3 separate regions of the Homo sapiens genome follow, and regions 1 and 2 are each linked to region 3. Evidence: fine-mapped expression QTL. A gene starts in region 3. Each other region holds a variant in brackets. All regions are shown on one strand. Distances are between the middles of the regions.

The links.
Region 1: its variant is fine-mapped to the expression of S100A11 in whole blood (TOPMed, PIP above 0.99).
Region 2: its variant is fine-mapped to the expression of S100A11 in monocytes (Quach 2016, PIP 0.95).

Annotation. Positions count from the first base shown.
Region 1 is chr1:151,753,556-151,761,736 of GRCh38, forward strand. It overlaps MRPL9 (mitochondrial ribosomal protein L9), which reads right to left. Exons shown (of 7, transcript NM_031420.4): 5 at 7,896-7,997; 6 at 7,261-7,344; 7 at 6,092-6,626. The coding sequence ends at 6,495. It also overlaps the pseudogene RPS11P3. Among named protein-coding and RNA genes, the nearest start is that of MRPL9, 5.8 kb to the right of the region's middle. The variant G/A (reference allele first, on the strand shown) is at 4,319.
Region 2 is chr1:151,577,574-151,585,754 of GRCh38, forward strand. TUFT1 (tuftelin 1) reads left to right here. Exons shown (of 13, transcript NM_020127.3): 10 at 1,148-1,253; 11 at 2,076-2,159; 12 at 3,369-3,469; 13 at 4,071-6,010. The coding sequence ends at 4,134. Among named protein-coding and RNA genes, the nearest start is that of SNX27, 30 kb to the right of the region's middle. The variant G/A (reference allele first, on the strand shown) is at 4,256.
Region 3 is chr1:152,032,710-152,040,890 of GRCh38, forward strand. S100A11 (S100 calcium binding protein A11) reads right to left here and starts at 4,295. Exons shown (of 3, transcript NM_005620.2): 1 at 4,204-4,295; 2 at 939-1,091; 3 at 1-114. The coding sequence starts at 4,206. RefSeq lists enhancers at 2,364-2,658, 5,756-5,915 and a silencer at 3,504-3,798.

The DNA of each region.
Region 1 (8,181 bases), 280 kb before region 3:
AGAAAGGACCCTGAGACACCATGACAAGTATATAAGGTAGTAATTTTCCCAATCCTAACCCACAGGGACTTATGACCTTTTATTTTCATAAGACACAGGAGAGAAAGAGGACTATGCAAACATTTAAAGCACTGTTGGATAGAGTCCATTGACATTGACACCCTAGGATTGGAAGCTCCATTATGGACCTCTGTTAGAGTTGCAGGGTGTGGAGGCTAGGTAATAATTGTATTCCAGCTCCAGCTCTGACTCTCAGTAGGTCTACCAGGTTTACAGACTCACCTAGTAGTTACTTCATGAGTCCTTAATGGACAGTTGGAATAGACATATTTGACAGTTGGCAGAACCACCAGGTTGGTTTTTTGGTTTGTGAGGTAGGAAATATCATAGTGAGGAAGGCCAACATGAAGTGTCTGGAACTGCCTCCACCATTCCAGACCAATATAATAAATAAAAATTACTCCATTAGTGCCCTGCTTGAAGACCTAAAGAATGCAGAGGTGGTGGTGCCCATCATATTGCCATTTAATTCACTAGTCTGGCAACTGCTAAAACCAGACAGATCTTGGAGAATGAGTATGGATTACTGCAATCTCAATCAACAAATAATGCTAATTCTATCTGCTGTTCCAAATGTGATATCTTTGCTGGAAAAGATTAACGCAGCCTACATGGTATGTATTGATCTGGACAATGCACCCTTTTTCATCCTTGTAGAAAGGAAGATCATAAAAGCTTGCTTTCACTGAGATGAGCAATAATATACATTTCCAGTTTTGCCTCTGGACCATGTAAACTCTCCTGCCTCTGTCATAATATAGTCTGAAGGGACCTGGACCATTAGGACATTCCATAGGACATCCCATTACTGCACTGATGACATCATGGTAATTGTACAGGATGAACCTGAAATGATACCTGTATCAGAGGCCTTGGTAGGATAAATCTTCTTCAAATAGTAGGGCAAGAATCCTACAAATATTCAGGATCTTGCCAGATCAGTGAAGTTTTTAAAAGTCCAGTGGTCTGAAGCATACCAGGACATTCCCTCCAAAGATGATAAGGAGAAATTTTGCATCTCGTATTTCTCACCACTAAAAAGCACAATGCCTTGCAAATGTCTTGGGGTCTATTGCTAGCATATTCCATACTTGGAAATGTTGCTTTGACACAAATATCATACGTGACACAAAAGCCTGCCAACTTTGAGTGGGTCCCAGAGCAGGTAAAAGCTCTGTAGCAGGCCAAGACTGTGGTACAAATGGCCCTGCGGCTTGGATCACAAGACACCATATTATATTAGAGGTGTCAGTGGTGAGAAAAGATCATATACTGTTCGTGATAAATCCCAATAGTAAGTCACACACAGCCCCCTATAGTGCTGGAGCAATGCCATGCCATCTGAAACAGAGCATTATATACCTTTCAAAAGATAGCTCCTGGAATGCTACCGAGTACTAGTTGAGACAATGTGCTTACCTATGGGACGTTAAGTCATGATGTATTATAACCTGGGTTCTGTCAAACCCACAAGTCATAAGGCTGGGTGGGTCGACCGGTCATCCTTCATAAAATGAAAGTGGCATATGTAGAATTGGGAACAAGCAGGGCTGGAAGGCAAAAGTGAGCTACATAAGCAGGTGCCCAGATGCCCTGTCACCCACTATTGATGCACTGGTGGTGCTTTCTCAGTTTACATCTGTAGCCACATGGATCGGAGATCCCTCATGACCTGATGACAGAAGAGGAAAAAGGCTGAGCTTGGTTAATGTACTGGTTGTCTCATTAGGTGAAAGTAGGCTGGAAATACACTGTGGCTGCACTATGGCCCCACTTAGATGGCCTGTGTACCTGCCAGAAGTAAGAATATATATAGACTCATGGGCCTGGAAGGCAAACTGGAAGATTAAAAACAAGGAAGTGTGGGGAAAAGGAACATAACATACCCGAGAATGGGTATACAGTGTGATGATTTTTGTATTGCAGGTTAATTCCCATCAGATAACATCCACCACAGAAAAGGTACCAACCAAGCAGATGGAATGACTTAGCCAAATAATGTTAACCAGGCTTTGTTGCTGGCACCCCAATGCTGGCAAAGTGATCAATGAACGGAGGAGCCATGGTGGAGCAAATGCAAGGGTTCAACGTCATGGACTCATCAAGTCTGATCTAACTACTGCATCAGTGAATGTCCAGCTTGCCAGCAACAGAGACCAACACTTAGCCTGATGTCACCATTCCTCAAGGAAACCGTCTAGCCACTTGGTGGTAAGTTGATTACACTGTATCCTTGCTACCTTGGAAGGGGAAGTGTTCTATTTTGAAGGGGCACTGATGTATATTATGGGTACTGGTTTGCCTTTCCTGCCTGCACAGCCTCGGTCAGCAACACCATCCAAAGGTTTACAAAATTTTGATCCATTGGCCTGAAATCTTGTGTAACATTGCATCAAACCAAGAGACCCACTTGATAGCAAGGAGGTACAATGCTGGGCACATGATGGTAGGATTGGCTTTAATCACATACCGTACTATGCAGAAGCTGCTCCCTGATAGAGTGCTTGTTAAAAGCACAGCTAAGGCACCGGATTGGAGATGATAACCTGTAAGGAGAAGGCATCATCCTTCATGATGCAGTACATACCTGAGACCAATAGCCATTGAATAGTGTATCCTTAAGGAAAATATATGGCTCTGGGGAACAAAGGGTGGGTGTAGGAGCAGCCCGCATTATCATCACTCCCAGTGACCCAATTGAAGAAACTGTGCCTTCTATCCCAACTCTGGTCTCTAAGGGTTTAGAAGTCCTGGTTCCCAGAAGGGGAATATTTGCACCAGTGAACACACTGAATCTCACTAAACTTTAAGCTATGGCAGGCACTAGATTACTCCAAATCACTACCAAGAAACAAGGCAAGGAAATGAGTCATTATCAGGAGGTGGGGCTGCTATTACACAGTGGGGACAGGGAAGAATATATCTGGCACCCAGATCATCCACTTGAGTATGTTTCTCCTTGCCCAATTTTGATGATAAATGAACAAGTGCAGTCATAGTCTGAGAAGGGCATGATGGCCAGGTACCTCATCTGGTAACCCACGTGAACCAGAGGTACAACCCCCTCAAGGGGGTTGGGGAAAGATCAACAATAGGTAGTAGAGAAGGGAGGTGAATGCCAGTTGCAAACTCAAGCTACAGCAGCAGAGGCTGTGGCCTGTTCCAGACCTTCCTCTTTTAAGTTTCCCCAGAAAGAGATCCATCAGAATCCTGAAGAAACCATTCCAGAACTAATGAAACAAATCAGTCTGAGCAGTGCAAAGGGTGGACTGCAGTGTTGACTGTGGTGTGCTGCCCATATTTTCCCCTTGAGGACTGAAGCTGCTAAGAATGCTGACAGCTGTCACCTGTGCCTCATCCAGGGACCGCCTTTGGCTGAAGTTAGCCACCTCACTCATGATCATACCCCTTTCCTGGTCAAGTGGGGAGATAAGGTCCAGCCCACTTACCCTACTGGGGCATCCTGCAGAGCCATCCTAGTTTGAGCTCCTGATTGACTGAGGCGTTTGTTAAGACTGCATCAGCTCAATTTCTCCCTCTACCCAATTCTACTGCCTTTACTCCCCAATAGGTGTTGATGCAGATAACTCCTCCCAATAAACTTCCTGCATGTGAATCTCCAACACAGAGTGTTTTTGCCAAGAACTCAACCTATGGCAGGTATTTAAATGCTTTTTAAGGTTAGCTGTGTGAAATGTGTGCTCGTTGCTCAATTTCAGAGAGTTTCGTGATGGTCATGTTGAGAGATGCTGTGTGTGTTTAATTAGCCTACCATTTCAAGGACAATAGGAATGGGGATCATTGAAATGGCAAATTTCAGTGGGCTTGGGGCTCATGCCGAGGCTGCAGGTCCTCCCCAAACCTCAGGAGCGTGTCCAGGATGGCAGAACTCTGTGCTTCAGTTTGGGGGTTAATTCTGGGTGTCCCCAACTCACTAGGGATTAACTGGGGTACAGAAGTGTATGCATCTACTTCAATCTAGATTAGCGCTTCCTAAATACTGGGGTCTCTGCAAGTTAATGGAGGCTCAAACCTTTCAGGAAGTTCTGTTAAATCCAAGACTGAGTGTACCTACCAAAAGCAGTCAACCATCTTTCAAAACAAGAGGGTCCTGCTGGGAGATACTGGCAATGAGAAGTTCCTATAGGACCATAAGATCAGTCTGGGGCTGGGTGCAGTGGCTCATGCCTGTAATCCTAGCACTTTGGAAGGCCGAGGCGGGTGGATCACCTGAGGTCAGGAGTTCAACACCAGCCTG[G/A]CCAACATGGTGAGACCCCGTCTCTACTAAAAATACACAAAAAATTAGCCGGGCGTGGTGGTGGGCTCCTGTAATCCCAGCTATTTGGGAGGCTGAGGCAGGAGAATCGCTTGAACCCGGGAGGTAGAGATTACAGTGAGCCAAGATCGTGCCATTGCACTCCAGCCTGGGCAACAAGAGCGAAACTCCATCTCAAAAAAAAAAAAAAAAAAAAAAAAAATCAGTTTGGGCTTCAATATGCCCAAATAGGCTATGAGGGCACCTATATTTACACTGATTGCCCTTTATTGGTAACATCTCCATCTGAGGGTGGATCCTGTCTGGCATGGTGACCAAGATAAAAGATGCAAAAGATCAACATCATCCACCAAGACTATTTCCACTACATGTGTAAGTACAGTTGCTTCAAGAAGCACAAGAACATGTTCATGCACCCATCCCCTTGCATCAGGGATGTCCAGATCAGCAACATCATCATGGTTGGGTAAGCACCAGCATGAGCAAGATGGTACACTTCAACATGCTCATGGTCCCCAATGCCACCAAGAAGCAATTCCAGTTCTGAGTCTGGATGCCTGCCTACTCCCTAATGTGAAATAATGTTATTTTCCCATTCAAAAAAAAAAAAAAAAAAGAAAAGAAAAGGGTGGGGAGGGGAGAAATGCTAAATTTCAGATAGTGCCAGTGCCACACTTGAGTTACAGAGCTCTGTCAAGTATGAAGTTGGCTATAGTTATCAGTGCAACTACTGATGACAGACTTTCTCATTAGCTGAGATGGGATGAAAGTGTTTAACTGACTCAGAGTGGTAGGTGAGCTCAAATAGGAAAGAAACCAATGTCTGGTATGGATAGCAAAGGAGTCAATGATCCCATCTTTACTACCCTAAACTGCATGACCTCACATTGTATTTGAGTGACCTTGGCACAATCCACCTGAAAATGAATGTTTTTTTCTACTAATGAAACTCTGAACTTACAGAAAACTATCTACTTTCAGGCCAGGCATGGTGGCTCATGCCTGCCTGTAATCCCAGCACTTTGGGAGGCCGAGGAGGGTGGATCATGAGGTCAGGAGTTTGAGACCATCCTGGTCAATATGGTGAAACCCCATCTCTACTAAAAATATAAAAAATTAGCCGGGTGCTGTGGCACATGCCTGTAGTCCCAGCTACTCGGGAGGCTGAGGCAGGAGAATCACTTGAACCAGGGAGGCGGAGGTGCAGTGAGCTGAGATTATGCCACTGCACTCCAGCCTGGGTGACAGAGCAAGACTCTGTCTCAAAAAAAAAAAAAAAAAAGAAAAAGAAAAAGGAAAAAACTATCTACTTTCGTTTATCTCCCATCAAGACATCCATTCATCCATTCCAGAGTTACCTTTTGACTAGCTCCCTATCTTAATCTTGGTCTAGAAAATTAAGGTAACTTCTTTTTCAGAATTTCAGGAGCTGGTTCAAGGAAAAAAGTTCCCTTTTTAAGCTTCTTTCATCCCAGCTTTCCAACAATTACCCTTAGGCCTTACTCAGGTCTTAGAGAAGCAGAATCCATTGTGCTTATTCACATTGATGACTACATCAATGTATCTAAGAAGAGTAAGTGTTAAGACCAAACACATCATCAACTTGTTCAGCACAATTTGTTCATACCACAGTAACTGTGGGATGCAGTCTAAGATATTCTCTTCTTTCCTTTTTAGCAGCAAACCTCTGTGACTCAAGGAAATCTCAGTTGGATGTCCTGTCTCATCTACTCAAGACCAGTAAGCAACACTTACTTAAAAAGAACATATTCTCTTTATTTCTGCTTGGGATACAAATGTTCAGTTTGGATGATGAGAATGAGGCAAGTACTGGAGACAATGGCTGGCTCTCCTGTTTGTCCCAATAAACTCCAATGGAGGAAGAAGCTAAACAGGTTTTGGATGGTTTCGGTCTACTGCATCTAGCTTATCAAATCTACAGCCTGGTACTTCTGGAACAGGACTTCCCTGCCCCAGTGATGACAGTTAAAGATGGCAAAAATGAAGAATTCAACATGTATACGCAGTGCAGTCTGATGTCTTCAGATGTTCTCTAAAATTCTGTATTTGGTCAGAGCTGGGAGTGAGATCAGGGTGCTTGCACATTTCTGCTCCACTGCTCCCGATTCTGCTTTGCTGCCTTGGAGGGAGAGTAGATTTAGATCTGGGGGCTGGTGGGGGCCATAGCCTTGGCAGCTTGCTGGGCTAACCAGTACTTATATCTTTTGGTCTTGGGCTTCTCAAAGTTCACGACAGACATAGGCACTCTCACAGTATCAAGCCCATTTACCTGCACACAAAACAATGGGAATTCTCAGAGATCAGTCAGGTAAGTAAGATTTAGCACCACCTAATCCCAGCTTTTCACCCTGACTTTTCTCCCAGTCAGAAAAAGGAGAGCTAGGGCTGGGCACAGTGGCTTATGCCTGTAATCCCAGCACTTTGGGAGGCTGAGGCAGGTGGATCACCTGAGGTCAGGAGTTTGAGACCAGCCTGGCCAACATGGGGAAACCCTGTCTCTACTAAAATACAAAAATTAGCCAGGCACGGTGGCGTGTGCCTGTAATCCCAGCTACTAGGGGGACTGAGGCAGAAGGATCGCTTGAACCTGGGAGGTGGAGGTTGCAGTGAGCTGAGATCGTGCCACTGCACTCCAGTCTGGGCAACAGAGTGAGACTCCAGCTCAAAAAAAAAAAAAAAAAAAAAAAAATTAGAAAAAAGGGAGAGGTAGGTGCTAGGTGCGGTGGCTAACGCCTGTAGTCCTAGCTACTTGGGAGGCTGAGGTGGGAGGATCGCTTGAACCCAGGAGTTTGAATCCAGCCTGGGCAATGAAACAAAACCCTGTCTTTAAGAGAAAGGAAAAAAAGGAAAAAGTGGGGGAAAAGGAGAAAGAAAAGAAAAAAGAAAGTATGCAAAACACTCACCGTCACCTCACACCAATACTCGCCCCACCGTGTGATAGGCTCTTCTGGTAACTTTAATGTATGTGGGGCAACCACAACACCAAGCTGCAAAAAAAAAAAAAAAAAAAAAAATCTCAGCTCAAATGAACTCTGTTTTCATGACTGCCACTCTAGGGAACCTCATAAAGAGGGTTACAGGATTCCCTGCACAGGGATGAATAAAACTGGGGTGTCTACTCTGGCTGATTCCATGGGAGAGAAGGGCATACACCTTCATAGACGGTAGTAGAGAAATTCAATTCTGATTTCTCAGAAAGGGAGGTAGATTCACAAAGAGAAACAGGGCTTGAGGCCAAAACCACTTCATCCACAAAAGTAACAATTCTCCAGTGAGTCACAAATCCCCAGCATTTCCCTAGGTAGACAGGAAATAAATGGAAACCACCACCTTTTCCTATCAGTCTTCAAATTCTATGTGACCATCCTTAGTCCTTAGCCATTTCCTTCCCATATTCCTGCAAACTAACCAAGAATACTTTCCTTAACTACAACTGGATGATCACACCCCTTCCTAACAAAGGGATCAATCCCAGGCCTCCTTTCCAGAGGCAGCTTCCACCTCAGGGGTAGAGTGGTTTTTGGGAACACTCACTCACATTCTTAAAGAAGTGGCGGGCAACTATTTCAGGGTTCAGCTCCCATTTGACATTGTTCTTCATCCCTACCTCCAGGCGACAGCTTTTTAGAAATTTCACTGTCTGAAAGGAATTATGAGTTTGAGTCAAAGGAGAGGAAACATGTCAGGGTCACAGGGTATGCAAGCCAAGCAAGATGGCTCATGCCTGTAATCCCAGCACTTTGGGAGGCCAAGGTGGGTCTCCCAAAGTGGGTCACTTCAGCCCAGGAGTTTGAAACCAGCCTGGCCAACATGGCGAAACCCTG
Region 2 (8,181 bases), 460 kb before region 3:
TTGGCTCAGTTTGCTTAGAAGATGCAAAGGAAGCAACAGTGGTTTGGGAATCAGGAGACCTAGAAACAAAATTGTGTGAAGAGGCTTTAAGGAGCCTCAAATTCTGTCTTTCTCCTCCAAATCCCTGCCAACAGCTTGATGGTGTTGAGTATAATAATCCCAGCTCCAACTGGGCATGGCGGCTCACACCTGTAATCCTAGCACTTTGGGAGGCCGGGACAGGAGGATTGCTTGGGTTTAAGAGTTCGAGATCAGCCTGGCCAACATGCTGAGACTGTCTCTACAAAAAAAATTTTTTTTTAGTTAGCCAGATGTGGTGGCATGTGCCTGTAGTCCCAGCTACATGGGAGACTGAGGTAGGAGGATTGCTTGAGCCCAGGAGGTCAACCTGGCAGTGAGCCATGTTTGCATTATTGCACTCCAGCCTGGGCTACAGAGTGAGACCCTGTCTCCGGAAAAAAAAAAAAAGAAAAGGTCGGAGAGGGAAATCCTAGCTTCTACTTGAATCTTTCCAGTAACGAGGAGTTCATTACACATGAGACTGGCCACTTTCTGACAGCTTTAATACTAAGAAAGTCTTTCCTGTGTTAATATAAAAACAGCTTCCCTGGAACCATCTACCTGTTGCTTCTAGATTTACCCTCCAGAGTTATCCAGAATGACTTATCCCTTCTAACCTTTCCGAGCCTCAGTTTCCTCTCTTAGACTAGGTGATCCCTGATGATGCTTCCAATGTAATATTCTTTTTTTTTGTGAGACAAAGTCTTGCTCTGTCACCCAGGCTGGAGTGCAGTGGCGCCATCTTGGCTCACTGCCACCTCTGCCTCCTGGGTTCAAGCGATTCTTGTGCCTCAGCCTCCTGAGTAGCTGGGACTACAGGCACACGCCACCACACTTGGCTAATTTTAGTATTCTTAGTAGAGGTGGGGTTTCACTATGTTGGCCAGGCTGGTCTTGAACTCCTGACCTCAGTGCTTCCAATGTGATATTCTAAGGTACCCACCACCTACTCTTCAGAGCAGCCTACCAGGGAATCAGGCAAAGGGAATCATATTAATGGGAACCTCCCAAGCTCAAGGCTCTTCCTGTGACTGGGTAAATAAGTGATCTTGTTCCATTGCCTCAGCCTTCTGGTCTTTATCCCCAGGGCTGCTACCCTGGAAAAGGAAGTGGCCGGGTTGCGGGAGAAGATCCACCACTTGGATGACATGCTCAAGAGCCAGCAGCGGAAAGTCCGGCAAATGATAGAGCAGGTAAGTTGGGCTGGTTTGTAACCTGCCCTCGGGGAGTCACCCCAAGTCTATGCTCTTATTTGTTTCCTAGGGAGCTTGACTTATATTCATGCATTTCCCATGTCAAACATTTATAGCTACCAATTACCAGGTTCAGGTTATTAGGATTTGCTTTTCTCCCATCTTTCCCCTACTGTTTTGTTTGTTTGTTTGCCATTTGGCCTCTGCTTTCCAATAGGAAAGGAAGGAAAAGGTTAATTTGTCATATACTCTGTGAAGAGTGTGGGTAAATGAGTAGTTGAGTCATAATAAACTCTGTTATCTGTGCAGATTATCAGTCTTTGAGCCTCATGGCTGCTTTCCTGCCTTACCCCACCTGAGCTTGAGGGTAGCATACTTAGGATTTGTCTATTTGCAGAATTGTTTTGAGAGCCTAAGGCCCCATAACTGGGAGGCTGTATGTGCTTCATGTCAGCTCCATTAGTGTCTGTTTTATTTAGTGCTGTTTTCCATTATCTCGAACAGAGTCAGTCATATAGTAAGTACTCAATAAATATGTCTTGAATGAAAAAATAATTTGTATTTTCCAAAGCCATATGGAATGGGTTTTGTCATTCATTATTTTGGATTCTCAGGGTGGTATTCCCCTCACACACTCCTCACTCCCACCCCTGGGATAATCAAGAGTCTAATATTGACTGAAAGGAGGCCTTTGTAGAAAAGCTAATGAAGTCATATGGAGTTGCAGGGCTCTGCTGCCTTCCCCAGCAGCTGGGGTGAAGTCTGGTGAGTGTGTAATGAGTCATTGCAAAATGAGCTCCAGTGTCTCCCACACCTTTGCAGCTCCAGAATTCAAAAGCTGTGATCCAGTCAAAGGACGCCACCATCCAGGAGCTCAAGGAGAAAATCGCCTATCTGGAGGCAGAGGTGTGTGTGCTGGGCAGCCCAGCAGGGGAACAGGACTCTTGAAGAGAAGGTGGACATAAGGGAGACAGAGGTTATGGGAGGGGTCTTTGTCATGTCTTGCTGTTGCTCTGAAGTGAATACCTAGGGTGGTTGGTTGACTTTCAGTTCAGCTGAATAAACATTTTCTGAGAACCTTCAGGAAGCTGCTAACAATGATGAGATGACCACCCCCCTGGCCCCACCTTCAACGGACATGTCATCATGGTGCAAGCCACATGCCATGGCTGCACACGGCTAATTCTGACCCTCCAGGCTTTGCAAAGGAGCTGGCAGTGGTGCTGGGCTGTGAAGGAGGAGGAGGCATTCATACAGATGGAGCCTTTTCCAGGGCTAGATTACGTAACGAGTTGCCTTCCTAGTCTAATTTCCACTTTGCCACAGGGCCCTACCTGTCTGTTGACTACCTGAAGATCACTTTGCGAACGCTCTGTGAAGATCCCCTGTAGTGAGGGAGAAAAATGGGAGAAAGGGTTATCTTTAGAGAGTTTGCAGTCTATAGTCAGAGATAAAATGTGTATTTTTAAAAAGACCAAAGAATGCTTTATAGAATAGCGTATCAACAAAGGCAAGTGAGTATCTCAACTGAGGACAAAAAATTATATATAGGGGCCAGGTGCAGTGGCTCATGCCTGTAATCCCAGCACTTAGGGAGGTTGAGGCGGTAGGATTGCTCGAGGCCAGGAGTTCAAGACCTAGGCAACATAGTGAGACTTTGTCTCTGAAAAAGAAAAAATTTTTTTAATTAACCAGATGTGGTGGCATGCATCTGTAGTCCAGTTACTTGGGAGACTTAAAGGAGAGGATCACTTGAACCCAGGAGGTCGAGGCTGCAGTGAGCTATAATCACGCCACTGCACTCCAGCCTGGGCAACAGAGTGAGACCCTATCTCAAAAAAAAAAAAAAAAAAAAAAGAACTGTATGTAGAGGACATATAGGAAACCATCAGTCTGTCAGTGTTGTACAGAGTTATGGAGGAGCAGGTATTGGAGGATAAGCGCAATCTATGGTAATGAAGATGAGGCAAGTGGGTATCCAGGTGGTGGCACGCATGGTGGGGGTAGAGGCAACAGCAGCATAAACACAGGCAGAGAGACCAGAATGCACTAGCTGAACGTGGCACCCGGGAAGCCAGAAAAAGGCCAACTCTAACCCCTAAGCTTGTGTTACAGAATTTAGAGATGCATGACCGGATGGAACACCTGATAGAAAAACAAATCAGTCATGGCAACTTCAGCACCCAGGCCCGGGCCAAGACAGAGAACCCGGGCAGGTGAGTGAGCGTGTGTAGATAGAATGGGGCCAGGGAGGAGGGGAGAAGGAGGGACAGAGCTCTGTAGAACCTTTAGTGCTAAGGCAAGAACAAGGCTCCTTTAAATCCAACTTTCCTCCCTCAGTCTGACCCACTGTTTGCCGGAACCATTTTCTAGCCCAATTAGAGTAGAACCTGTTAACACAAGCCCAGGGAGGTCCATGAATGGCTTCTAGAGATGTATGAACCACCTGAAATGGTAGGAAAAATTTAGTTATAATGTTTGCATATTTCTAGGGAGAGGGTATTTTGCCTCTAAGAGATTCAGAAAAGGACCCATGATCTTGACAAAATCGAGAATCACAGCTATATCCACTTCTCAGTTGTTTAACTGCCCCTCTCTTTTCTTCACCCTTGCTACAAGACACATGTATCATGCCCCAAATCTTCCCCTAGTTGTCACTGATAATTACTGTTTTAAAGCACTTGGAACCCAAGTGATCAGCCAGCACTGCAGTGTAAGATTCCAGAGGCCAATGTGAAGATTCCAGGGGCTCTGTGAAGGGTGGGCCACAACACAGCTGTTCCCAGCACAACTCAGTGTTTCCAACCTTCTTTTCAGTATTAGGATATCCAAGCCGCCTAGCCCGAAGCCCATGCCTGTCATCCGAGTGGTGGAAACCTGAGCTGCCTGGAGATGGTTGCTGCCATTGCTGCTGCCTCTGCCTCGGAGAAGCCCACTGCCCCTGTTGGCTGTTAACACTGCCTTTGACTTCCTGACTGTCCCCTGGCTGCACCCAGGACTTC[G/A]GGCTCCTGTGTCTCACCATTCCCAAGCCCCTGGCCACTCTAAGCTGGGCAGACGGAGCACGAGCACCTATTCAAGGCACTGCAGCCCTTTGGAAGACATTGTCCTGCAAGCAGGAGCCAGGGCAATATCTATATTCCTACAGTGACTATTTTTCTCTGTAGAGAGCCTCCCTTCTGTTGTAGACTGGACTCTGGCTGTGCCATAAGCCAGGCCTTCATCAGATTGGGAGAGGTGACAAGATTTGCCTCAGCCCTAAAAGCTGGAGACACAGATGTCCAGAGTGATTGGAGAATGTCCTGGGGGAATGAAGTTCCTTCCACAAACACAGCTCAGTTCTTAGCAACAAACTGTTTGTTTTTCTACTTGCTCCATCTGCAGCCTACGCTGCCCTGGCCTCCTGCAGACAGATAGTGGGGTTACCTGGCAAGGCCTGGTGAGAGCCAGTGAACCTAAGCTTTGACTGGGTGGCCTTGTCTTTCTGGGGAGGAGGGAATGTACATTCAGGGAGTAGCCTTTTGCGGAAAAATTCTCTAGGGCTACAGACAGTCATGTGTGACTTCTCTCTGCTGTGAAAACTCCCAGAGTCTCTTTAGGGATTTTCCCTAAGGTGTACCACCAGGCACACCTCAGTCTTCTTGACCCAGAGCCTGAAAACTGTTTTCACTGGGTTCCACCAGTCCCAGCAAAATCCTCTTTGTATTTATTTTGCTAAGTTATTGGTGGTTTTGCTTACATCTCATGATTGATATAATACCAAAGTTCTATAGCCTTCTCTTGCAGTATTTGGATTTGCTTGAAACCGGGAAAACTGTTCCCATTAGGCTTGTTAATGTCAGAGTGACACTATTATGAATCTTTCTCTCCCTTTCCTCTGCCTGTTTCTTCTCTCTTTCTCCTTCAAACTTGCTCTGCAGCTAAGGAAGGTGAGTCTACTTTCCCTGAGGCTTTGGGGTCAGAGTATATGTTGTTTGGAGAAAGAGGGCAATCAGGACTCTTCTGGGACCCAGATGAGTTCTTCACTAGCCCTTCTGAACCCCTTGCTCCATAATTGGTCTTTTATCCTGGCTCTGAATGACCCTGCAGGTCATCATGGTTTTCTTTTTTTATTGTTTTTTTTTTTTTCTGAGACAGAGTCTCACTCTGTCACCCAGGCTGGAGTGCAGTGGCGCGATCTCAGCTCACTGCAACCTCTGCCTCCCGGATTTAAGCGATTCTTCTGCCTCAGCCTCCCGAGTAGCTGGGACTACAGGTGTGCCACCACGCCTGGCTGATTTTTGTATTTTTAGTAGAGATGGGGTTTCACCATACTGGCTAGGCTGGTCTCGAATTCCTGACCTCAGGTGATCCACCCACCTCGGCTTCCCAAAGTGCTAGGATTATAGGCTTGAGCTACTGCGCCCGGCCCATGGTGTTTTTCTTTAGGGCTCTTCCTACAACCTTGAGAAGTAGATAGGCATCAGAGTATGGTACTATAGGAATCAGAAAAATTCAAAACAAATGTGGATTAAGTGTTTAGGCTCTATGTGGCTCACGCAGCCAGAATCCTTAAGTCTGTGTGTTTCTGTGTCTCAAGACTGGGCTCACATTCTGGCTTTGTCCATAACAATGCTCTGGGATTTCAGGGAGTTCCCTCATTTGTAAAATGAGGGGGTCAGAGCAGGTGATATCCATGTTTCTTCCCTTTCTGATATTGTTGTCTGTGGCATATTCTTTGTATGGCGAATTTAATAAATTATATTAATGTGTCTCTTTGACCTCCTGGTCTGGTTTCCTTTCACTTTTCAGGGAGGATGAAAGAAGAACATTTTAGTGCTTCTTGGAAGATGGGCACCCTGTTATCCACATGTGGGAGGTGTGGTCCAAACATCCCAAATGCCATGATATGAGGACTTTGTGGCATTTATAGAGGTATTAGAAGAAGCTCACCTCCGTGCTCTGAGTCGTGATTGTAGGAGGCAGCCCCTAACTTTAGCTTTGACCCTCTCTGGAGCAATGGCCTTGTAGGATCCCTAAGCCTGGCCGCATTGTGTCTCATTTGGAAGAGATAGAGGTAGAGTCCTGTGATTACATAGAGATAGAACAGCAGCACTGGAGGTAGATGAGTAACTGCATGCCTTCTGCAGAAATGAAAAGCACTCTGGAAATGCTGACTGCAGCTGTTCAAGGGGGTTCGTTTCTGGCTGTCTCTGGGCATCATTCAATTAGTCTCATGATTTTTTTTTTCCTTTCTGCCAAGAAGGCAGTTGACTGCAGGGCCAAATGGGGACATAGCTGAATTTACATGAATCTTCTCTGGGCCAAAGAAACCAGAAACACAACAACCCCTCATCCCTGGCTTGTTTCCTTTCTAGCTCCCATTTCTCTTCTTCAATTGAAAGAGTGTACATTTTTCTCTGATTTCTTCCCCCTTCTCCTGCTTCTCAGCCAATTCACACCACAGGCTTCAAACACATTGGAAACCTCTTTCCTTTGCAGACCCGGATTTGTCTTCTGACACCCGTGGCTCTCTTCTTTCTCTGGCAGTCTTGTTTGGCATGGCTAGATCTAGACTGTACTTGCTCTTAGAATATTAACAGGGTGGAAGCAGGGCGGGGTTGACCAAGGTGCCAAGAAGACTCACAGGGCTGGAGGAATACTGGAGTGAGTGTGCTGCCATACATGAAAGGGAGGCTCCCGCCGGGCCTCCTGTGCTCAGTGGGAGGAACCAAGATTTGGGTTGCAGATAATGGAGCAGTCTGGAGGCATTCCAGAGACTCGAACCAGGGGTCTAAGAGAGTCCTTGGACAAAAACATGCCACTGGTGTATATTTCCTAGAGTTTAGTTATGCCACAACCAAAGAGAGTAGGGGCATGACACAGGGGAGCGGGGGGCACAGGTTTGGAAAGGGAATGTAGTCAGGGAAATACAGTTTGTATCTTGGTGATCTTGTCAATTAGAGACGGAGAATGGGGAACTGGAGGAGAATGAGATGGTGTTCAGGGCCTAAAGAAAAGGTGTGGCGAGTAAGGCTCTTGGCTTTAGTGGCCTGTTTATTGCCTATGTTTTGTCATTTTTAAGCCAACTCCTCTGTGCTGCCTTAATATTTTGTGGAGGGAGGATAGAGTCTGATTCCCTGGGACCTCTGCCATGAAGGCCTGTTTCTTTGAGCTGGGTGTTGAGAGCTGCTCAGACATGCAGCCGTCATCAACAGCGTCCTGTAAACCTGGAGCGTCAGCCCAGCACGGGAAAAGAAGCAGCAGCACCCTGCCTGCCGAACAACTGCCCCATCTTCCCCATCTTCGTCTGTTCTTTCCCCTGCACAGAAAAAAGCCTGGCAGTGACACAGTATTTCAACCAAATGGTGCATTGGAACCTTTTTCAAACTAAATTTCTAAGGCCAAGAATTGATTGGCTCATTTTCATCTCTATTTAAACGTACCTTTTGCTATGATATGTCCCACTAGGAAGTGTTTCCACTTTGGAAAGGAAAGGTGCTCTGACATGGCAGGAGTTAAAGCAACTTAATTAGGCTGGGCGCAGTGGCTCACGCCTGGTATCCCAGCACTTTGGGAGGCTGAGGTGGGCGGATCACTTGAGGCCAGGAGTTTTGAGACCAGCCTGGCCAACACAGTGAAACCCCGTCTCTACCAAAAAATAAAAAAATTAGCCAGGTGTGGTGTCGGGTGCCTGTAGTCCCATCTACTCAGAAGGCTGAGGCAGGAGAATCTCTTAAACCCCAGAGGCGTAGGTTGCAGTGAGCAGAGATCGCCCACTGCACTCCAGCCTGGGCGACAGAGCAAGACTCCGTCACACACACACACACAAAAGAAAAGCAACTTAATTTGAGGAGGGTAACAGCCTTTGGGTTGGAAAAGCAAGCAGCTTTCCCTCTTTAACCAGCTTTTTAGTGTGTGTTGCTGTTTTCTGCAGGGCCTCTAATAATCC
Region 3 (8,181 bases):
AGCCATAGCTAGGCCACCAATCAGATTAAGAAATTCTGAGAAATCTAGCTGACCATCACTGTTGGTGTCCAGTTTCTTCATCATGCGGTCAAGGACACCAGGGTCCTTCTGGTTCTGCAGAGAAAATAATAATTACACCTTTATATCGCATCTTCTAATGTGCTTTCAAATATGCTGCCACATTTTATTCTCACAGGAGTATAAGGTACAGGATAGGGATTATTAATATTCCCATTTGCCAGATGCAGAAACAGACTAAAAGAGGTGAAGTGACCTGCCTAAGGGGCAGACCTGGGCCTTGAACCAAAGGTTTTCCCACTCCTAGTCCAGGGCTCTTTCTATGATATTAGGGGCTATTCAGTTTTGTAAAGCCAGTGGAACACTTCTTTCAAGTGTTGCATGCAACTCCAATAGATAAACTATATAAAAGTACAGCGGGTTCAGGTGGAAAAAGGCCACAGGCCCTGCCTAATCAGTCTCATCCTCCACTTGCCCAAGCTGCCAACACAGATACAGACTTAGAGCCACTGGTTACAAATGGCTATTTACATTTACATTTACATTAACTAATTTAGAAAGTCAGTCTGTTAGTCACACTAGCCACATTTCAAGCACTCAGCAGACACATGTGGCTGGTGGCTACCATGTTGGATAGAGCAGATATAGAATGTATTTCCACCACTGCAGAAAGTTCTACTGGACAGGGCTGCCATAGAACCTCTGGGGTAGAATAATGAAATTTGAAAATAATTCCATTACGTCATATACCATTTCATATATCTCTCTTCCTAAATGGAAAAACTCCTGGCTTAGAGTGAGTTAAAATGAAGCAAGAGTGTGGGGTGTCAGTTGCTGCTCCTTCATTCCTGGCCATTCTGCCAGGGTCTTGTTTCATGTTGTGGGTAGTTTGGGGAAGTGGGGGAGACAGGGACCAGTACCTTTGTGAAGGCAGCTAGTTCTGTATTCATGAAGCTTAGGAACTCTGTCTTGGAGAGAGTGTAGTTATAACCATCCTTTCCAGCATACTTCTGGAAGACAGCAATCAGGGACTCGATGCACCGCTCAGTCTCTGTAGGGCTGGAGATTTTTGCCTTTGGAGAAAAAAAATTGCAGGGCTCAGACAAGGGAAGATGTCAAGGCTGGATACTGGAGAAAACTCCAGGGACTCTTATTTCAGGTCAAAGCAGTTTCCTAAAAGACTGAGTCATTTTTTCAAGGGGCTGAGGGGTTCAAGACAACCACAAAAAGTCACACTCTGTGACCTTCCGTCCTACCCCTCGCCACATGTTTATTCCAGGTGAAATATATGGAAGGTAAATGTGGAGCATTGCTGGCACGTTTAAAAGCAGTAGACTGCCTAGATGAGAGTGACGGTGACAAGGTTTACTCATATTTTTAAAATGTGTGGATAAATACATGTGTAACTCTATATCCACAAATCCATATGCACACCAAACATTGTCTATAGGTTAATAATTTCTTATTTTCCAAGAGTGTATGGAGGCTTTTGTGATTAATGAAATGTCAGTTCTTTTTAAAGCAATACCGAATTCCTGGGACTCACACATTTCCTTAGAGAAAACTAAAAGCATAGCTATCATTGTGTATGCAGTGGGAGATAGAACTTTTTAGATGTTTGAAAATGGCTTTCATATTTAAGAGTTAGGAACCATTAATCTTAGATGTGAGGAAACGGACAGGAGAAGGGAATGGATATGGCAGAGCCAGCCCTGGAATCTGGGCCTCCCAGTCCCTTTCTGCAGTCCTTAGCCTTGCAGGCTTCCACTTCCTGGTGGGAAATAGTGACAGAGAAGGTGGAGCTTCTCTGGAGGTCACTCCAAACCAGGAAGCTCTCAGGTTGCTGCTTACACAGCATCTACAATGTAAGAGATTTAAATCCTGTACTGGGCTCTTTCCTCACAGCAGAATTTTTCAAGGAAATTCTATAGGGCCCAGTCATCCGGTTCCCCAAGGGGACTTAGGGTCCCAAAAGTGAGGAGCTGTTGGCCTCCCTCTGGTGGGTAGAAGCCGCAATTACAGACTTTCTGGGAAACCGGCCTGGCCACACCCTTCCTCTGAGACTTTACCTACTAGCGTTAACAATGATTTATGTTTGGATGGTGACATTTGCAACTTAGCATTTAGCCTTTCGTTTGTTCTTAGGATGGACTTCCTGGAGGCCAGAGCTAGAGGCTTTCTCACTCCGTAATTAACACGTGCTAAGAACTGATCTGAGCCCTTAGCTACACAGCTGCAGATTGATTCCTCCTTCCTGTACAGCCTTTATGCTGCAGAGATCCTAGCTGAGTCTTGCCTCCCATTGCATCTTACAGCGTTAGAACCCCTGAACCCTAAGAGAGGTGGACTTTTTCCCAAGAATCACATTGTTGGAGGATGATTGTTTTTGTTTTGCTCTAAATTGAACTTTTCATTAAGAAAAGTGTTGGTAGGTTCAGGGGCCTTTAGGGGAGAAACAAAATACCACAGCCTAGAAACAGATGTGTTTGTTCTGTTACAACATGCCCTTCATATCAGGCCTAAAATCTCCCTGTCTTACTAAGGTATCAGATGACAGGAAGGAGACTGGCTGGGAGGCCACACCAGGCTGAGGAGCATGGGCTTTGTCACCTTTCTCTGGAACTACAGATTCTCCCCCTGCCCCTTTTCCTTCCAGAATGCAGACAGTTTTGCTTTTCCAGTTTCACAGTGCCTTTCTGCTTCACATTTTTCTCTCCTTAACATCAGTCTTGGTGTAATTTAGAGATTATTTTCTTTTGAAAACTGTTGCTGTTGCTATCAGCCACAAGGAGAAAATTAAAACCTCTTTGCATTTCCTCCCAGAGGTAATTCTCCAAAGTGAAAGAAAGAGACACAATTATCAAATTACTAAAATGGAACGGCATAATTTGTAGAGCTCCAGGGCACTTTGGAGATGGGTCCTGAGGACGCCCAGAAACCGGAAAGCTCTGCCCAGGGTGGCGCAGTGGCTGAAGGAGAGGAGAACCGGCGCTCTCCACACCTCATGGCACTCTTGGAGTCTTACTTGGTGGGGATGGCGATAGCAAGGAGCAAACATTATGATAAACGGATACTGTGAAATAATTTTTAAAAATGCATGCTAAGCGCTCAACATTTGAGGAAAGAAAAAAATACGATGAAAAAGACGTAGCAATTTTAAAAACCTCAACTATTGTCTTCTCATTCTTAACCAACACCCTCCGGAGCTTTCTGTCCCTGCTGTAGCAGGACTGCAACCCCAGACAGTATGGAAGGGAATGGGCGTGGCTCTGTTCCAATACTTCATTTATGGACGCTGAAGTTTGATTTCCACATAATTTTCACATGTCAGAAAGTATTTTTCTTCTTTTGATTTCTTTCAATCATTTACAAATGTAAACTTTATTCTTAGCTTGTGGGCAGAACAGAAAACCCGACTTGGCCCGCGGGCCAGTTTGCTGACTCTCCACTAAGGAGAGGTAAAGAAAGAGATTTTGGAGGTGGAATTATGGAAAATATGAGTTCAACTGGGAGATGAAAGGAGATAAGAAGAGAAAAATAAGTTACGGAGTGAGTGCCTAAATAGATGGTGGGGTAAAAGGAAGAGGAAGGAGGAGAGGGCTCAGCTGGGACCGGGTTCCTCCCACATTCTTGGCCGCGGCGCTGCGGGCGGCGACGGGCTAAAGTTTCAGTCCCGTTGGGTCTTGGCCGTCTGCCGGGTGCTTACTGAAACTTTGATTTTCCCTGGGGCTAGACGACCAAGTTCTAAAATGTCCCTTTTCTGGTGTACAGAAATAACTAGTGACCCCTCGCAGCTTTCCAGCCCCCTGCCTTAAACTTGCTCCTAGGCGTCTCTGGGCTCCCGGGAGACCGCGGGCGAGGGGCTGGAGGCAGTGACCCACGACGGGTCCCCCCCCCGCGCGGTGAGCGGCCAGCACTTCCTCTTCCCCAGCCCTGGGCCTTGTCGTGACTGGGAAGGCTAAAGAACCTCCGCTGCTACCCTAGGCGGCCACCCCAAGGATGATTTTAGGGCTTCATCCTTCCATCCCTTCTTCCCCAGTTCCCTCCCACGAGGCTGATTTTTCCTGCTGTTTCCTGCCACGTCCACACATAAGTCAAAGATAAAGTCTGCTGGGAAGTATGTGGGTTTTTTTTCTTTTCTTTTTCTTTTCATGTAAGAAGAAGAAGAAGAAAAGTGAGGCTTACCATGTTGGAGCTGAGCGAGGCGCGGGAGGCTGTGGCTGGGAGCGGCGCTGAGAGCTCTGTGCGCGCGGCGTGCGGGTCTGGAGCCTCTCCTCAACCCACGCCCTTCCCGGCCCAGCCTTGCCCAAGCCTTACTCAGACAGCTTCCGCGCCTGCCCCGCCCCTCCCCGCCTCCCGGGCTGGGCCTGGGACCGCGGCCGGCGCTAACCACAGAACTGAGCTTTAAGACTCAAATAAACCCACCGTCCTCTCCAGCGATTTAAGCAGTCTCACTCTCCCTCCTTTCCCTCTTTTCCCTCCTCTTTCCCCCCGGCCCCCTCCACCCCGTCCTGTGATTCCTGAAGATTTTTGACTTTTTAGAATTATAAGTTTTGCACAGTAGTCTTCGGGAAGTCTGTCCATGTCCGTGGGTCTTTCCCATGTATGAGCTCATTCTGGGCATTTAGGTTAGATAGGCAAAAAAGGTCTCTTTTGGAAACAGCAGTGGGCCGGGCGCGGTGGCTCAGGCCTGTAATCCCAGCACTTTGGGAGGCCGAGGCGGGTAGATCACATGAGGTCAGGAGTTTGAGATCAGCCTGACTAACATGGTGAAACCCCTGTCTCTACTAAAAATACAAAATTAGCCTGGCGTGGTGGCACACGCCTGTAATACCAACTACTTGGGAGGCTGAGGCAGAAATATCGATTGAACCCGGGAGGTGGAGTTTGCAGCGAGCTGAGATCGCGCCGTTGCACTCCAGCCGCCTGGGCAACAAGAGCGGAACAATGTCTCAAAAAACAAACAAAAACAGGCCGGGCGCAGCGGCTCACTCCTGTAATCCCAGCACTTTGGGAGGCCGAGGCGGGTGGATCACGAGGTCAGGAGATCGGGACCATCCTGGCTAACGCGGCAAAACCCCGTCTCTACTAAAAATACAAAAAATTAGCCGGACGTGGTGGCGGGCGCCTGTAGTTCCAGCTACTCGGGAGGCTGAGGCAGGAGAATGGCGTGAACCCCGGAGGCAGAGCTTGCAGTGAGCCGAGATCGCGCCACTGCACTCTAGCCTGGGCGACAGAGCAAGACTCCATCTCAAAAACAAACAAACAAAAAACAAAACCAAGAGTGTTAGTTAGGACAGAGTGCGGGTCAGAATTGTAGACAAGTTCCTAGGAGTTGGGGCTCTCTATTGCTCCACAGGGAAGATATTTAACAGTAAACAGTGGTGAGTATTGCCAAATCAATTGCCACGGGATTACTGGGGATTATTGTCAAGGGACAATTGCCACCCCTCTCTCTCAAACTTTTCTGTAAACTGAGGACAGCCACAAAGACAAAATCCGAAAACCAAACTACTGCACTTAAAAATTGATCCGTGCTAGTAAGGCATTTATCTGTGTGCAGTTTGCAATGAAATTAGGAGTTGTATTAAGAATCAGAAGACTTGGGTTCCAGTCTTGTGTCTGTTACTTCATTGCAATACTTTTGACCAGACTTGTCACTCCTTTGAGCTTCCACTTCCTTATTTGTAATAGGTCTTGAGATAGGCCTTTCCTGTTTCATAAGATTGTTAGGACTGTCAAGTAAAGTGAGGGCTTAGAAAGGTCTCCAAAAACTGCAGAGTAGACGCAAATGAAAGATAATGGGCTATAGGCATTGTGTGAACTGCTTCCCTGCACCTGCTCTCACAGGTGCCCTGAGCACGTGAGACAAATCTCCATCTCAGTTCTCAGCTACTCCAGACCCACATTTTCAGTTACTTGTTTATGAATCCACTTGAGAGTCCCACCTGCACTTCAGACTCAATAATTCAGGAATAACTAGTTTTCCCCAAACCTGTTTCTGTCTTCTCTGCTAAGGGTACTATCACTCTACCATTTTCCCTGCTTGAAAGCATTGGAGCCACTGAGTCTAAATGCCTTTTTGACTCACAGTTCTTATCAAGTGCCAGGTAATAGACTTCAAACCTTTGGTGGTGGGGGGTGTTACATGAACGGCTGCTGGGGTTCCTTAATACCTTAAAGTTACATGTAAATTTTTTGCATAAGAGAAATTTTTCTGGCGAAGAGTCCACATCTTTCATCTGATTCTCAGAAAAATTTATGATCCCAACATATTAAGGAATCATTTGTCTAAATTACTCCATAACTCAATCATGAGGCCTTACACACCACAGTTCTTTTCTTTTTTTTCTTTTTTGAGACGTTGTTTCACTCTTGTTGCCTAGGCGGCTGGAGTGCAACGGGGTGATCTCAGCTCACTGCAACCTCCGCCTCCCGGGTTAAAGCGATTCTCCTGCCTCAGCCTCCTGAGTAGCTGGAATTACAGGTGTGCGCCACCACACCCTGCTAATTTTTTGTGTATTTTTAGTAGAGACGGGGTTTCACCATGTTGGTTATGCTGGTCTGGAACTCCTGACCTCGTGATCTGCCCTCCTCAGCCTCCCAAAGTGCTGGGATTACAGGTGAGAGCCACTGCGCCCGGCCACTATAGTTCTTTTTAAGAGAAAATGCCTCACTTAGAACCTGTGCTCAAGGGGCAGCCCAGGTGGCCAAGTTTTGCATGATTTGACACACTGTGACCCTGTTAGAGTGGACTGGGTTGAAGTTAGTCTGGACACCAGCACTGCCAATCTATAGGATGGCTGGTAGTGGATGTTTCATGACATAACATGGAAAGATGAACTAGGGCCAAAAAGCTTCTTGTTTTTGGGAAACTGAAATTAGAAGCACATAGAAAATTAGGCATTTAGAAGAGCTGAAGCTGAACATTTGCATAGACAGAACCATGAAGTCATGGCAAATAAAACTTATGGAGAAGACATCATGAGTAAGTGGAAGCTATGAAATTTGGAAGAAATAGACAGAGGGGAATGTAAGCCAATTGCTAACTGTAAATTAAAGAAAAGGCTACTTGGGTGTTCGCTGAATTGTGAAAATGGTGAACCACTGGGAGTGAAGAGCCTGCAGTCTGACTTCATTAGCGTTTTTGTTCTTCCTAAACCTAGTTGTTAGTTTTTCTTACTTTCTCTATGACATTTATTCTTTCAATAACTCTTCAGCCCCATGAAGTAGCTTGAATGAAACCAAAGGAAAAAGCTAAACCAAATAAGTATGACTTGTTCAGAGCCAGGTTGGGGGATCAGCCCCACCCAGTTAGGGCTGCCTGCTTGACAGCTGCTCCCCAGGGTCACGCTGAAAGGGGTTCATTTCTAGGTTATCAGTCAAAGGAGGGAGAGTTCAGGAAAGGTAGCAGGCAAGGTAGATTTGTCAAAGCAGGCAAACAATGAATCAAACTGAAGGGCTGGAGCCAGCAAGGAGCTGAGGATGAGTGAGAGCTGGTAAACTGACAGCAAGAGACAAAAATAATATACAGATGGGTAAAAGGGCTTATCAGGAAATAAATGTAGGAACTTCCATGGCTCAAGGTAATTCTTATGTGCAGTCTGATCTCTGTGTAGCATTGGGTTGATTCTGAAATGGACACAGTACAGTGACAAATGCAATAACAGGGGTGTGACCAAGACACAATGACAAATGCCAGGAAAGAAATGAGAGGTTAACTCTGGGAGAGGAGGGAAAGTATCCTGGAAAAGTGCTGCTTGAGGTGGGTATTGAAATATAAATAAGAATTCACCAGGTGGATGAACATGGTAGTGAAAAAAGGTGAACTCAGGCAAGATAGCACAGTATTTACAGCCACAGGCTCTGCCACAAGACTGGGGTTCAAATCCCAGTGTCACAACGTATTAGCTATATGAAATCTAGCAAGTTATTTGTTGGCTCTGTGTCTCAGTTTCCTCATCTGTAAAGTGGAGAGAATAGTAGTTGTTGTGAGGATTAAGAGTTAATTCATGTTTAATGCTTAGGACTTACAGCAGTGTCTTCAGAGGAAGTTTTACATAGTGGCTTGTGCAGAATTAAGGTTCGGGATGAAACATTGTTCGTGTTCTCAGTACTTGCAGGTGGTTCAGTAGAACCAGACTTAGGGTATGGGGTGATGGT